Linked DNA regions of Homo sapiens. The protein of the gene in region 4 purifies or fractionates together with the protein of the main gene of each other region. This does not show direct contact. Each region holds a gene or a part of one and is shown on either strand. Other genes may lie near its edges.

Region 1 (3,500 bases), on a different chromosome or scaffold from region 4:
CTCTGCTAAGCCGTGGGCTTGCACAGGGAAGGGGTCCCCCACCTGGCTATGCTCAGGTCTCCTCTGCCCAACCTGGCACCTGAGAGACAGCCCAGATTCTAGATATGCTTTGATACTAATGCACCATGCAACCTCCAGCAAGTCAATTAATGTATTGGTTTCCTCATCTTTAGAGTGGGGTCAGTAACCTCTACCTCCTTGTGGGTTCAGTGGGAGAAAATCAGTGCAAAGCATGTGGCCCAGTGCATGGCATGGAGTGAGTGCTCAGTTGATGTGGCGGTGGGGGCCTTTGATTATGAGCCATCCCCTGTGGCCAGGACTCTGCAGGGCTTCCTCAGCAGCCAGGTGCATGGCCCTGGGCCTCTGGGTGAGGTCTGGAGCAGGCTGGGTGGGCCAGGCACCTCTCCTGTGAAAGCTGGAGGGCTTTGTCCTCAGTCGGTGCCCACTAGTCCCTCCTTAGCCCTGTGGGACCTCCATACACGGGGTCAGGAAATGGCAGGCTGGGCGGGCGTATGGAAGCTTGGGCCTGCTGACTGCTGGGCCTCTGGGAGGGGAGCCAGTGTTTGCTAAGAATAGTCCCAAATCATGGCTTTCGTTTCCCAGAGGGCAGCCCAGCCATGTGCTGCCCCTGTCTTGGGCCAAGGCACTTGCAGATGGACTTTTTATGTTTCCTGTAACTGGTGCTCAGCACAGGATTGAGCCTGGGAGCAGCAGGCTTAGTCTGGGAGGAGGCTCTGTTTGTCTTCCGAGGCCTTTGGCTGGGACCCGGGGAAAGAGAAGGTCTGGAAGCACTGGCCTTTATAATCCCTGAGTTCCTTTTCCACTCAGGGCTTTTCCTGACACATCTGCCTCGACCATCTTCCTACCTGCAAATAGACCTGTTGTGATTAAGAACACTGGCTCTGGAAAGAAACTACCAGGGTCTGAATTTCTGCTCCCTCCCTCATTAGCCATGTGGCCCAGGGCAAGAAACTTAACCTCTCTGTGCCTCAAGTCCCTTGTGTAACAGGGTTAAGGATAGCAACTCCCTTATGAGAATGTCACAAGGATGAAAGGAGGTAATCGCAGAGAGCCTCCGAGGCTGTCTGGCTCCTAGGAAGTACTCAGTAAACATTAGGTGCTTATGTTATTACCACGATGTTATTCTCTCAGCAGAGGCCAGGATGCTTGCACAGGACCAGTTGGTGGGAAGGGACCAGCGTGGCATCTTGATGTGGGTTCCTGAGCTTTCTTGGCCCTGGGTTCAGTATGAGGTGCAGGGGCTCCGAAGGTAGATTAAACTCTGTCCCTGCCAGGAGGTGAGTGAGGTACATGCAGACACCATGTCTGGTTCTGTGATGGGGTCTGTGCTAGTTATGGTTGGAGCCTGAGGGAGGGAATGGCTGGCCTGGGGTGTGTGTGATACTTCACGTGGGCTTTGAGGGATGGCCAGGAGTTTGCAAAGGAGGAGGGCAAGGCTTCCCCAGCAGAAAGAGCAGCGTGGCAGAGGTGTGACAGCCCTTGTGAAGCGTTTTGTGTATTTCCCATAACTGGCATGTGGGCTGACTTTGGCTTTAAGGGGTGCCCCTGCCTGGGCTGAAGCTGGGGCACTGATGAGAGAGGCAGGTGGGGTGTCTGGGTCATCTGCACACCCATGGAAGGCAGTAGAGAACATCTTTGGGAACTGGGTGTGTCACTGCCAATGCTTTGGGCTCCCAGGGAGCTGGGGCTTTCAGAAATTCCCCAAGGAGAGAGGATGTGGTGCTGTGAGGGCTGTGGGTACCCTGGGAAACGGCCAACAGGCTGGGCTGGGGCCCATGGGAGGGGAGAGGGGTGGGTGCCCTGAGATGACCTGGGACCCTGCCAGCTTCTGCATCCTGCTGAGCCCCAGGCCCTTCCTCTCTGTGGGCTGTGCCGGCCTCTGTCTGGCCTTCCCAGAATGGAGGCCTGGGACGCTGGGACATTTTTCGAAGATTCTGTTTGGAAAGCACAGAAGGGACTTCTCCTCCCCTTTTCCTTTTCCTGGAATGGAGAATCTCCTGAAGGAGTTAACCCCTTTCCTGCTGGTCACAGAGTGGCCCATGGATGTGTCCCCGGCTTTTTTTAGGATCACTGTTTTATTGTTGCCCTTTCTGTTACACGGGATGTATACATCAGGTGCTGAAAGGTACAACACATTCTGCAACTGAGTGCCACCTTCCATGATTGAACAGGCAAAGAAAGTACACTGAACATCAGCATCTGGCAATATATTTTTTGTTTGTTTGTTTTTTTTGAGATGGAGTCTCACTCTGTTGCCCAGGCTGGAGTGCAGTGGCGCATTCTTAGCTCACTGCAACCTCTGCGTCCCAGGTTCAAGCAATTCTCGTGCCTCAGCCTCCTGAGTAGCTGGGATTACAGGTGCCCACCACTACGCCCAGCTAATTTTTGTATTTTTAATAGAGATGGGGTTTCACCGCATTGGCCAGGCTGGTCTCAAACTCCTGATCTCAGGTGATCTGCCTGCCTTGGCCTCCCAAAGTGTTGGGATTACAGGCATGAGCCACCGTGCTCGACCCCAATATTTTTCTAAAAAAAGACTAAAATGGATTTAAATTGATTAACACTGTTAAATCACGTCTAATATTTGATACTACATGATTCAATATAGCTGAATGATGCAATGATAGAAAATGTGTTTACATCAAAGAATACAACCAAAATTAAGATAGCAAACAAAACCCATATACTTTTTTTAAACAGGAAAATACTTTTGAAGTGTACATGTAACTGCCCATTCTTTTATTTTATTTTATTGTTTGTTTTTTTTTTTGAGACAGAGTCTCGGTCTGTTACCCAGGCTGGAGTGCAGTGGCGTGATCTCAGCTCACTCAAGCTCCGCCTCCCGGGTTCAAGCGATTCTCCTGCCTCAGCCTCCTTAGTAGCTGGGACTACAGGTGTGTGCCACTATGCCTGGCTAATTTTTGTGTTTTTAGTATAGATGGGGTTTTGCCATTTTGACCAGGTTGGTTTCAAACTCCTGACATCAGGTGATCTGCCCGCCTCGGCCTCCCAAAGTGCTGGGATTACAGGCATGAGCCACTGCGCCCAGCTGCAACTGCCCATTCTTTTAAAGAAAATTTACTGCAAGCAAAGTTATCAACCTTCAGAAAATGCACACATAGTATTGCTAAGCATCCCCCATTCCAATATGCACACTTGGAAAATACAAAGTTAAACAAATTGTAAACAATAGGTGAGCTTCATATTTTTAAGAATATGGAAAGAAATCCCATTTTTAGCAGTGTTGTACAAAGAACTGTCTTTTCATGTGAAATTCATGAATTGTCCTTCTGTTGGGATCATACTTCACAAAACCACCATGTTTTTGAAACAAGATTACAGAGTACGAACATCTTAGCAATGTTATCTTATTATTAAAGTTAAATTTTTTTTTTTTACTATTTTTCAAAACATCTCCCTTAAGTATGTAGGATTCATCTTTAAAATTCTTCCTAGAAATAATATACAAAGGAGAGGTA
Region 2 (3,500 bases), on a different chromosome or scaffold from region 4:
AATTGTATCATAGAGCATGGGACTTGATAGCTTACTTTATTTTTAAACTACATTCTAAAAATAGTTCAGAAACATTTATCCTGTATAGTCATTTTGGTACATATACAAAAGGGCTATTTCTTTCAAGATATGCTTTAATTGTGATAGAGGATGATAAACTTGCTTATAGTCTGAGAGATCAGCAATGGTAGAATACTTATTTCATAAAGTTAGAAATAGTGTGAGAAGTGAAATATTTCCTTTCTATATGGGTAAATGTATATATTTCTCTAAGGCTATGTTTATATGTGTCAGTTAGGTAGAGAATTGAATCAGAGGCAATATGTAATCCATGCTGGAATTCCAGCTGGTTTTCATAAGAAATATCCATGTAATATAAGCCGATGTGGCCTGTGGTAGATTTTTTTTTTTTTCAATTTCAGTGGTCAGCAGAATTGTTCTGGGTCTCCATTTCTCTTTACATTTATATACATTTCAATTACAAATTTAAGGCTTTTAAATCTCTCTGTTGTGGTTTCTGTTGTTATAAAGCTTCTTAGAAGATTTGGATCCTATCCCATGTGTTCTTTGGGCTGAGAGGCTCAATAGCTCTTATCCGTATGGAGACATCAGTATCACAACCGAAGCTGTCCTGTCCTCTCACACTCATGTTGCCACTCTTTTATAAGCTTTTAGGAAGGAACATGAAATGTAATTTTTAAAAGATCCATAGATAATATATTTATTATCTATGCTAATAGATATAATATAGGACCATGCTAATAATATAATTTATTTATTATCTATGCTAATAGATATAATATAGGACCATGCTAATAATAATAGGACCATGCTAATCTTCTCTGTATTGTTTCAATTTTAGTATATGTGCTGCTGAAGCAAACATATTTAATATAGCATATTTAACGTATTATATATAACATATGTAATATGTGTAATATAGTACATAATTATAATGTATTTATAATTTTAATATATTTAATATAATAAATATATAAGATATATACATTATATAAAATATATTTATAATGTATATAATTATAAATAAATGTATTTATGATTTTAATATATCAAATATATTAAAATTATAAATATCAATATAAATATATAAATAGTATAATATACTGTACAATAATATATAATATACGAAATATTATATAATATATAATTATAATATACTTAATATAATTATATTTAGTATATTATGAGATATAATTATATATTTAATGTATTAAAATATATTAGGGACAGAAAACGATTTTTTGGGAGAAAAAGTAATACATGAGAAAATAGCAGAGGCATTTAGTATTCTTTTAACAATCTCAATTCGTCACCTCTTTCTGTCTCTCTTCCTCTCTTTTTGTCTCTCTCTCACACACAAATTAACTGTGCACTTTGCATATTTTCTTCCACCCTCTGTGGTACAGTAAGTGCAATGCAGTCAGCTTTTGGTACATGTTGTGACTAACACAAATTAGTGAACATTGAGAAGTTGATTAAGATGATGGACAGATTAGAGGAGAAATTGATAATGATAACATGCAGTCACATTTACTTTTTAGTTTCCTGGCTACTATTTTTAAGAACTTAACGGAACATTGTTAGCAGATTAGTGGTTAATAGCATGAGCTCTGCAGCCTGTGGTCCTGGCTTACTTAAGCTTCAGTTTAAAATAAAACACAAAACTGAGATAATAGCTATACATAAGTTGCTCTAGTAATTAAATGAGTAGTATGCCGAAAACTTAGCACAGTGTACATTTTATGCACTCAATACATATGTTAGTAATAAAAATGATGATAGTAGCAATTGTGTTATGTCTCTGTTTTAACAAGGCACCATTATATAAATCTGTACTTTTTAAAAAACAACATTTTAAATGAACATTTACATTGCTTAATGTTTTTAAACATTATTAAAATAGACAGAAAATTGAGCTATATTGATCTGTAAAGAAGAATTCCTTCAATGACAGAGTGGCAGACATGATGACTTAATTAGCAAACCCTTTCATTATATCATTTATAATATAGTTTTATCCACATACTAAGATAACATCATATGGAACACATATGTCTTAAGTGTTGCGTGGCTGACTGGAGGGCGTGCACAAGCAATGTAGGGGGACTGCAGATGACTTTTATTTAACAGTTTTTGTCCTTAGCCAAGATGGTGTAATTAGAAGTATGTTCATTAACTTTGTAGAGTTCATTAAGCCCAGGAATTTAGAAGCCAAAACATGATGTGTCTCTTAGAAAATAGGCTGTAAATTCCTCTGGGCAAAGTGGAGATCTGGTAATAAGCAGATGGGATGGTATTTATTAGTGTCAAGTTCAGGATGGCATAACTAAAAAAACTATTAATGGAGATAATTAAACCATTTGTAAAAAATTTCCCCCTTAATCTTGGTGTCTTAGTGAGCAAAAAGTTGGTTATGAGTCAACAAATTAGAATTCTTGTTAAAACTAAAACATCATATATAGGAACCATTTTACTACCTATACATATTTCATAGTATGTTGTGTACCTCCATATAACACAATACAATTTATTTTGAAAGAAAGTTAAAGTGAAAGCATCATTTATTTTTACTCCATTTAGTATGAGATTTGATTCATTAGAACCTTCAAGTAGTGGTTACCTCTGGTTAGACATTCACTGTAGTGCTCTGACCAGGTTAGGACTCCACAGATAAAAGAATAAAACTTTCAGATAAAAGCCACAAAGAATATTAAAGGAGAGACAAAGAAAAATACAGAGACAGAAAATTAAAGGAATGTGTACATTATTACCTAATTTTAAAGAAGAGAAAGCTCTGTAGGAGCTTAACAACATTTAAATGGCTGTTAAATAGAAGTTGGATACGAGTTATTCCTCATTAGCTTTATTGAGATAGAAACAGGATTAAACCACATCTCAGAGTTAAAGGGAAGAACTTCAGTTCAGAGGGAATTGTCAATTATAGGGCACGTTACCAACAGATGATTCAGAATCTTTTTTTCCAGAAATATTAAAAAACAAAACTAACTTATATCTATTAATGCAGATTGAAAAGGAGTGAAGTATCTTTTTTAGAGCAGATGAATGTTCTAGATGATTTCTGAAATTTTCCTTAGCTTTACTGCTAGGATATTAAAATACTTGGGGAATAAAAGAGGCTTATACAATAGAGTCCTCTAACAGTTAACTTTTGACTCATTGTAGTTTTGCAACCAAGTAAAAACTTGCTTGACATTTATATAAGATTTGATATTTTTTTTTCCTACTCTGCAGATTACTCGCCTGAAGATAGATAGGAATCCATTTGCTAAAGGCTTCCGAGACTCCGGGCGCAACAGGTGGGCCTTAGTGAAGACCATTCCGGTTATGATAAATATATTTGATATTTTATTATGAATTTTCTATTACAAAGTAAATGGCTAAATTTACTAATACGATATTGAAATCATTTCTGATGAGGACTGTTGTGCCTCGGAGATAACTTATTTTTGTAGTGTAAT
Region 3 (2,595 bases), on a different chromosome or scaffold from region 4:
CTTGGGGCATTTGCATGTGTGTTACTTTTTTCCTGACAGTTCATCATTCAGATCAGAGGTCACCACTTAGGAGGTCCTCCTGTGACCCATTCTGAAGTGACCCTCTAGACACACTCAATTCACATACTGTGATTTACATTATTAAGCAGGATGTAATTACAAACTAATATTTTTATTGCCTCTTCCCCACCTCACAGCCACTAACTAGGATATATGTTACTCACTTACTAACTAGGACACAGGGTCTCACCAGAGCCTAAAGTGGAATCTGCTATATGCTAATTTAAGTGTTCAATACATATATGTTGAATTAATAACTGCAAGTACAGAAGGTACTAACTTTTGAGTCAAAAGGACTAGCTGACTTCAAATAAAAATTCTAAATTCTCAAATATTAAAAATATGTTGGGATATAGCCCTAAATTCACAACTGAGATGAATTACACCATTCAGAAGGTTGTGGCTTCTAAGAATCTGAACAAAAAGGAACCAGGCAGAAATGCCAACTTAAAATGAAAATGTTTATATAAATTAACCCATCCAGTTTAAAGTAGATTTGCTATGCTTCACTTACTTAAGGAAGAATATATACTTCCTATATTAATAAATCACATCAAATAAGTAGGAAGTTTCAATAACAAGCCTGTAGATACATTGAAACCCCTTTTTATATTAAAAGTTAAAATGAAAGACAAATCCAGATTGAACATAGTGATTGCAAAATATAATGCAATTTTCAACAATTAAAATTATGAAAATATACAAAATTGATGGGCAACACAACTAGGCATTTGTACATTTTCCATTATGTGGAGAACACTACAAGTTTCTCTACCTTTTATCTACATCAGATAAATGATTTAAACCAAATGTTTGCTTTGGAGAGTCTTAACTTAGGATCTCAGTAGTATAAAAAGCAATAATTTTTCAGTCTGTAAACAGTAGTCGTGATTTTTCTCCTTTCCTTTTTTAAATATCAGTTTACCACACAAAAACAAACAAAACAAAAAAACCCATACAAATCAAAAACAGCAGCAGCAGCAATGGGTTATTTGGGAATTCTCTTCAAATACCAATGGCATACGATTGCTGGGAGAGGGTGCTTTTTACTCATGTAAGAATATATATATATATATATTTTTTTAACTGTACACAATTTATAGTACATGAGGGTTTCCAAAAGAACAGATTGATAAGAGATATTGGCCATTTCTGCATAATTTCATTCTTTTTACAATTATCTCAAAATGTGAAAGCTGGATCTAATTGAAATGCTACATTTAGTAGGAAAATCAGCAAATAACAAAGGAAGCATAACCTCAACATAACATTATTTGTCATTAAAGCCAGTAGAGGTCCCAGATATCTTTAGGCAAGAGACTGGTTAGGAAGACCACTAGAGTCACACACTGTCCCTGAGGACCAAGGCTAGCCCACTGAACATACATATGCTAGATTGATCATGGTCAGTCGATAGACTTTTTCAAAGAGCATTTCTACAGTACAGTACTTTTTTGGATATTCAGAGAGACATCATTTCAAGAACACACGCCATACACATGTACCCCACCCTCCCCAGCAGACACACACAAAGTTCCATCTTAAACAGGCCATAGTTTTATGAAAGAATATGTTGTCATTACATGAAATTCAGAATTAACCACAATTTTCCATTCATCTTGTTCAAGACAGTTCTTCCTTTTGGGATAGGGTATATGACCAGCTGTTGCTACTCATATCAAAAATAAATTTTTGAAATTAGTTGATGGACTAGGATTTCCAACAAGCCTTATTTTGAACAGGTAATGTAGTAATTGTTTAAAATTTCCTTGGAAGTTTAAGCACTGTATCAAATTATGAATCTAAGAAAGTCAAAATGAAGGGACAAAATGCAATTACTTTGCGTACACAGATATTCCCAGCTCTCTTGGTTGCTTTTAAAAGAAAAAAGTACCACATTTCACTGGAGCAGTGCAGGTTGGAAAGCACCTTTAAGGTCTTCAAGACCAATCCTCCATTGGATGCTTAATTTCCTCATCAAATTCATTTCTTTGCTCTTACAGAATTAAACTTGAACTATATTTAGGTAACAGACCAAAAACAGAAGCAGGGATTTAAACAGAAAAATATTATCAAAGAAACTGCATAAATTGTAGGACATTTTCAAGAGCAATTTTTACCTCTTCTATCAGACCAACCACTGATAGAAGAAGCTAGAGTCTTGGGGACATCCAGGTGAACAAAGTAAACACCATCCTGTTATAATTCTCTAAGTTTGAAGAAAGTAGTCCAAACCTCAAACCCACTGAATAACATTTCTTTTGCCAGCCTAAAACTTAAAGCCTAAGGCTAAATCCATAATATTACATTCCTTCCTTCCCAAACCCCCCACACTTAAAACATTAAAGTATTAAATCTTAATTTTCAAGTCATATATATATGTGTATATATATATATGTATATATATGACTCACAAAACCAATGAAATAAGTATCATACTTGCCTGCATAAATTATGTGCACCTCTCTTCTTTGAAACAGTCATTCCTATCTTTCCCAAATGTATGAAAGACAGAAAGCTAGTCCTCAGCGGGCT
Region 4 (3,500 bases):
GGAGCGTAGCCTTCCTTCAAGCATGATTTCTTGACCTCACCTTTGTCTCTTGGTGTACTGGCAAAAACCATATCAGATACTCTGAACCCTGAACAGGGATCTTCATGCTTCATTATTTCAGGTCCTTTTGCTGTTATTAGCCTGATGATTGGTGGTGTAGCTGTTCGATTAGTACCAGATGATATAGTCATTCCAGGAGGAGTAAATGCAACCAATGGCACAGAGGCCAGAGATGCCTTGAGAGTGAAAGTCGCCATGTCTGTGACCTTACTTTCAGGAATCATTCAGGTAAGGCTCAAAGATGGGGAAATGGACTGTCTCGTTTGTTAACCTAACAAGTATCTACTGAGTGCTCTTGGCTGGTCTTACTACACGGTGGATGGGGTCAGCCAGAAAAACCCCAGAGCTCTGGGAGTAACTGCAGACCAACTGCATGCCATATTCACAACTATGAGTGACGAGCAAGCAAGCTTCAGGTGGGTGTTTTAAAGATCCCAAAAGCAAGACAAGTTTGACACGGCAGGATTGGTTAGTGCTGGGAGAGGACATTCCTCTCTGCTTGGAAGAAACAGCCAGTGATCATGATCATGCACTTTAGTCTACATGATGAAGCATGCCCCCAGCTCAATGAGAGACAGGGAAGGCATTAGTGTGGTCAGCGCACTGTGGGGCACCAAGCCACTCCAGACCTTCCATTGTTTTCTGTATAACCAGTGGTTGATTTTCTAGCTACTTACCCACTTGAGGTACAAGTTTGCAGTGTTAGAAAATGGTCCAGAGGCTGGGCGCGGTGGCTCACACCTTTAATCCCAGCACTTTGGGAGGCTGAGGCAGGCGAATCACAAGGTCAGGAGTTCGAGACCACCCTGGGCAACATAGTGAAACCCCGTGTCTACTAAAAATACAAAAATTAGCCGGACATGGTGGCACACACCTTTAGTCCCAGCTACTCAGGAGGCTGAGGCAGGAGAATCGCTTGAACCCGGGAGGCAGAGGTTGCAGTGAGCTGAGACTGTGCCACTGCCTGGGTGACAGAGCAAGACTCCATCTCAAAAAAAAAAGAAAATGGTCAAGAAAGAACTTGTATATTTGCTGTGGGTCATAACTTCCTGACCTATCATGTGATTCATTTGTTTCTTTGTCATTAAAAAAAAATAGTTTTGCCTAGGTGTCTGTAGGTTTGGATTTGTGGCCATATATCTCACAGAGCCTCTGGTCCGTGGGTTTACCACCGCAGCAGCTGTGCATGTCTTCACCTCCATGTTAAAATATCTGTTTGGAGTTAAAACAAAGCGGTACAGTGGAATCTTTTCCGTGGTGTATGTAAGTAAGAAACTACCTGACGTTCTGGTACTTTTCTCTTTATTCCCCCCAACCTTCTCTTCTGTATCTCTTTTTACTTTCAAGACTCATTTTTCTTTTTCTCCAGTAATTTCCATAAAAAGGGAAAAATTCATTTATTCTAAGGTTTTCTGAAAAGAGTGTTACAAAGAGAACTAAACCTTAAAATCTCTGTTATTAATATGTGATACTGCCTACTTCACAAGGAATTTTTTGCTAGGTCTTTATTTGGTGACTGCACCATCACTCTAGGTAAAGAGAGAGCTTTTTCTTACAACTAAATCATGATCTTTTTGGAAACTAACAAATAATTTAAAGGCATGAAGGTAGAACATTTCTCTCTCAAAAACTGCTAATTAAGGCCGGGCGTGGTGGCTTATGCCTGTAATCCCAGCACTTTGAAAGGGCTAGATGGGCGGATCACGAGGTCAGGAGATCGAGACTATCCTGGCTAACAAGTGAAACCCCGTCTCTACTAAAAATAGAAAAAAATTAGCCAGGTGTGGTGGCGGGCACCTGTGATCCCAGCTACTCAGGAGGCTGAGACAGGAGAATGGCGTGAACCCGGGAGGTGGAGCTTGTAGTGACCCGAGATCCCATCACTGCACTCCAGCCTGAGCGACAGAGCAAGACTCTGTCTCAAAAAAAAAACAAAACCTGCTAGTTCAAACTGGCAAAAAATAAGTAAGGCTATAAAAGATTTAACTAACATGAATCTTTTAATTATATAGACCCCTTACCAAACACAGAGAAAATATAAATTATTTGCAAGCACTTAAGGAACAATGGTAATAACTGATCATGTTGAAATCGATCATGTGAAACTGATCACAAATTCTAAAAATTCAATGTTTTTTCACACAGTGCAATATAATAAAAAAATCAAAAACTAAACATAGCTTTAAAACTCCCATATATTTAGAAACCAAAAAACATTTCTAAATGACCCATGAATAAAGAGGGAATTAGGAAATAATTAGAATTAATTGACAGTAGAAGTACTACATATCAAAACCTCTGAGATGCTGTTAAAGCTATCCTTGAAAAGAGAGGCCTGTTGCCTTTGTAGGTATTTATGTGCCAGACACTGCTAGGTGCCAAGATGCAGCTGTGAGCTAAGAAGATACAGGCCTTGCCCTCTGGAGCTTTCAGTACAGTGGGAAGATTGTAAACCATTAATCGCATACATGTGTAGTCAATTACAATTTGTGTTGAGTGCTATGAAGAAGAAGTACCAGCTGCTCTGAAAGTTAAATAGGGAGACCTTTAGATTAGGGGTCTAGGAAAGGCACTTTGACATTTAAGTTGAGTCCCTGACTGATAAAAATGGAATCAGGCTTTAGGAATATTCTCTAAATAACAAAATTCTTAGTTTCCCATAATAGCTATTATCATACTTCTTACTCTGAGACTTGTCGAAATGCCTTGTCACAAAGGAAATAAAACATACTGAGTACTCTAGGCATCGATAGGAAAGGGTGCATGTTGTGGGCTGAGTGGGAAGTCTACTTTATTGGGTTTCAAATGAGAACTGACTATATTTGAGGTGCCCAGTTGGTAACCCTAGGATATAATTAAGTGGATTTGTTCTCTAGTTCTCCTAGGTTCCTTTCCCAAACATCAGCACTCTTGACTTCAAAGTCCTGCTAACAATAATTTCTCTCTCTTTGAGCTCCTAAAAGCTTTTCAATGTATTTACCTTTGGAGTACTTTGCTATCAACCCTTAATTCTTTCCAATTGCTCAGGACTCAGCTTCAGGGTTCCTTTTCTGGATTTTATAATATTACATTGAGACATCAGCATATGATAAGAATAATTGTTTGATAAGAATAACTATAAGGCTGGGCACAGTGGCTCACACCTGTAATCCCAGAACTTTGGGAGGCCGAGGCAGGCAGATGACTTGAGGTCAGGAGTTCGAGACCAGCCTGACCAACATGGTGAAACTCCGTGTCTACTAAAAATACAAAAATTAGCTGGGTGTGGCGGCAGGCACCTGTAATCCCAGCTACTCAGGAGGCTGAGGCAGGAGAATTGCTTGAACCTGGGAGGCAGAGGTTGCAGTGAGCCAAGATCATGCCACTGCACTGCAGCCTGGGCAACAGAGCAAGACTGTGTCTCAAAAATAAATAAATAAATAAATAACAACTATAAAAAG

The links. The genes of interacting proteins can lie anywhere in the genome.
Region 1: the proteins of SLC26A5 (region 4) and PALD1 purify together in Homo sapiens (affinity purification with mass spectrometry; one large-scale study listed by BioGRID and IntAct). This does not show direct contact.
Region 2: the proteins of SLC26A5 (region 4) and TBX18 purify together in Homo sapiens (affinity purification with mass spectrometry; one large-scale study listed by BioGRID and IntAct). This does not show direct contact.
Region 3: the proteins of SLC26A5 (region 4) and NAA25 purify together in Homo sapiens (affinity purification with mass spectrometry; one large-scale study listed by BioGRID and IntAct). This does not show direct contact.

Annotation. Positions count from the first base shown.
Region 1 is NC_000010.11:70,481,767-70,485,266, forward strand, and holds part of PALD1 (paladin), read left to right. Parts: exon of another isoform or gene 1-1,298; intron 1,299-3,500.
Region 2 is NC_000006.12:84,744,099-84,747,598, reverse strand, and holds part of TBX18 (T-box transcription factor TBX18), read left to right. Parts: intron 1-824; exon of another isoform or gene 825-882; intron 883-3,273; coding exon 3,274-3,338; intron 3,339-3,500. UniProt on the Homo sapiens protein: Acts as a transcriptional repressor involved in developmental processes of a variety of tissues and organs, including the heart and coronary vessels, the ureter and the vertebral column.
Region 3 is NC_000012.12:112,026,189-112,028,783, forward strand, and holds the end of NAA25 (N-alpha-acetyltransferase 25, NatB auxiliary subunit), read right to left. Parts: 3' UTR 501-2,595; downstream 1-500. UniProt on the Homo sapiens protein: Non-catalytic subunit of the NatB complex which catalyzes acetylation of the N-terminal methionine residues of peptides beginning with Met-Asp, Met-Glu, Met-Asn and Met-Gln. May play a role in normal cell-cycle progression.
Region 4 is NC_000007.14:103,408,208-103,411,707, reverse strand, and holds part of SLC26A5 (prestin), read left to right. Parts: intron 1-121; coding exon 122-288; intron 289-1,158; coding exon 1,159-1,323; intron 1,324-3,500. UniProt on the Homo sapiens protein: Voltage-sensitive motor protein that drives outer hair cell (OHC) electromotility (eM) and participates in sound amplification in the hearing organ.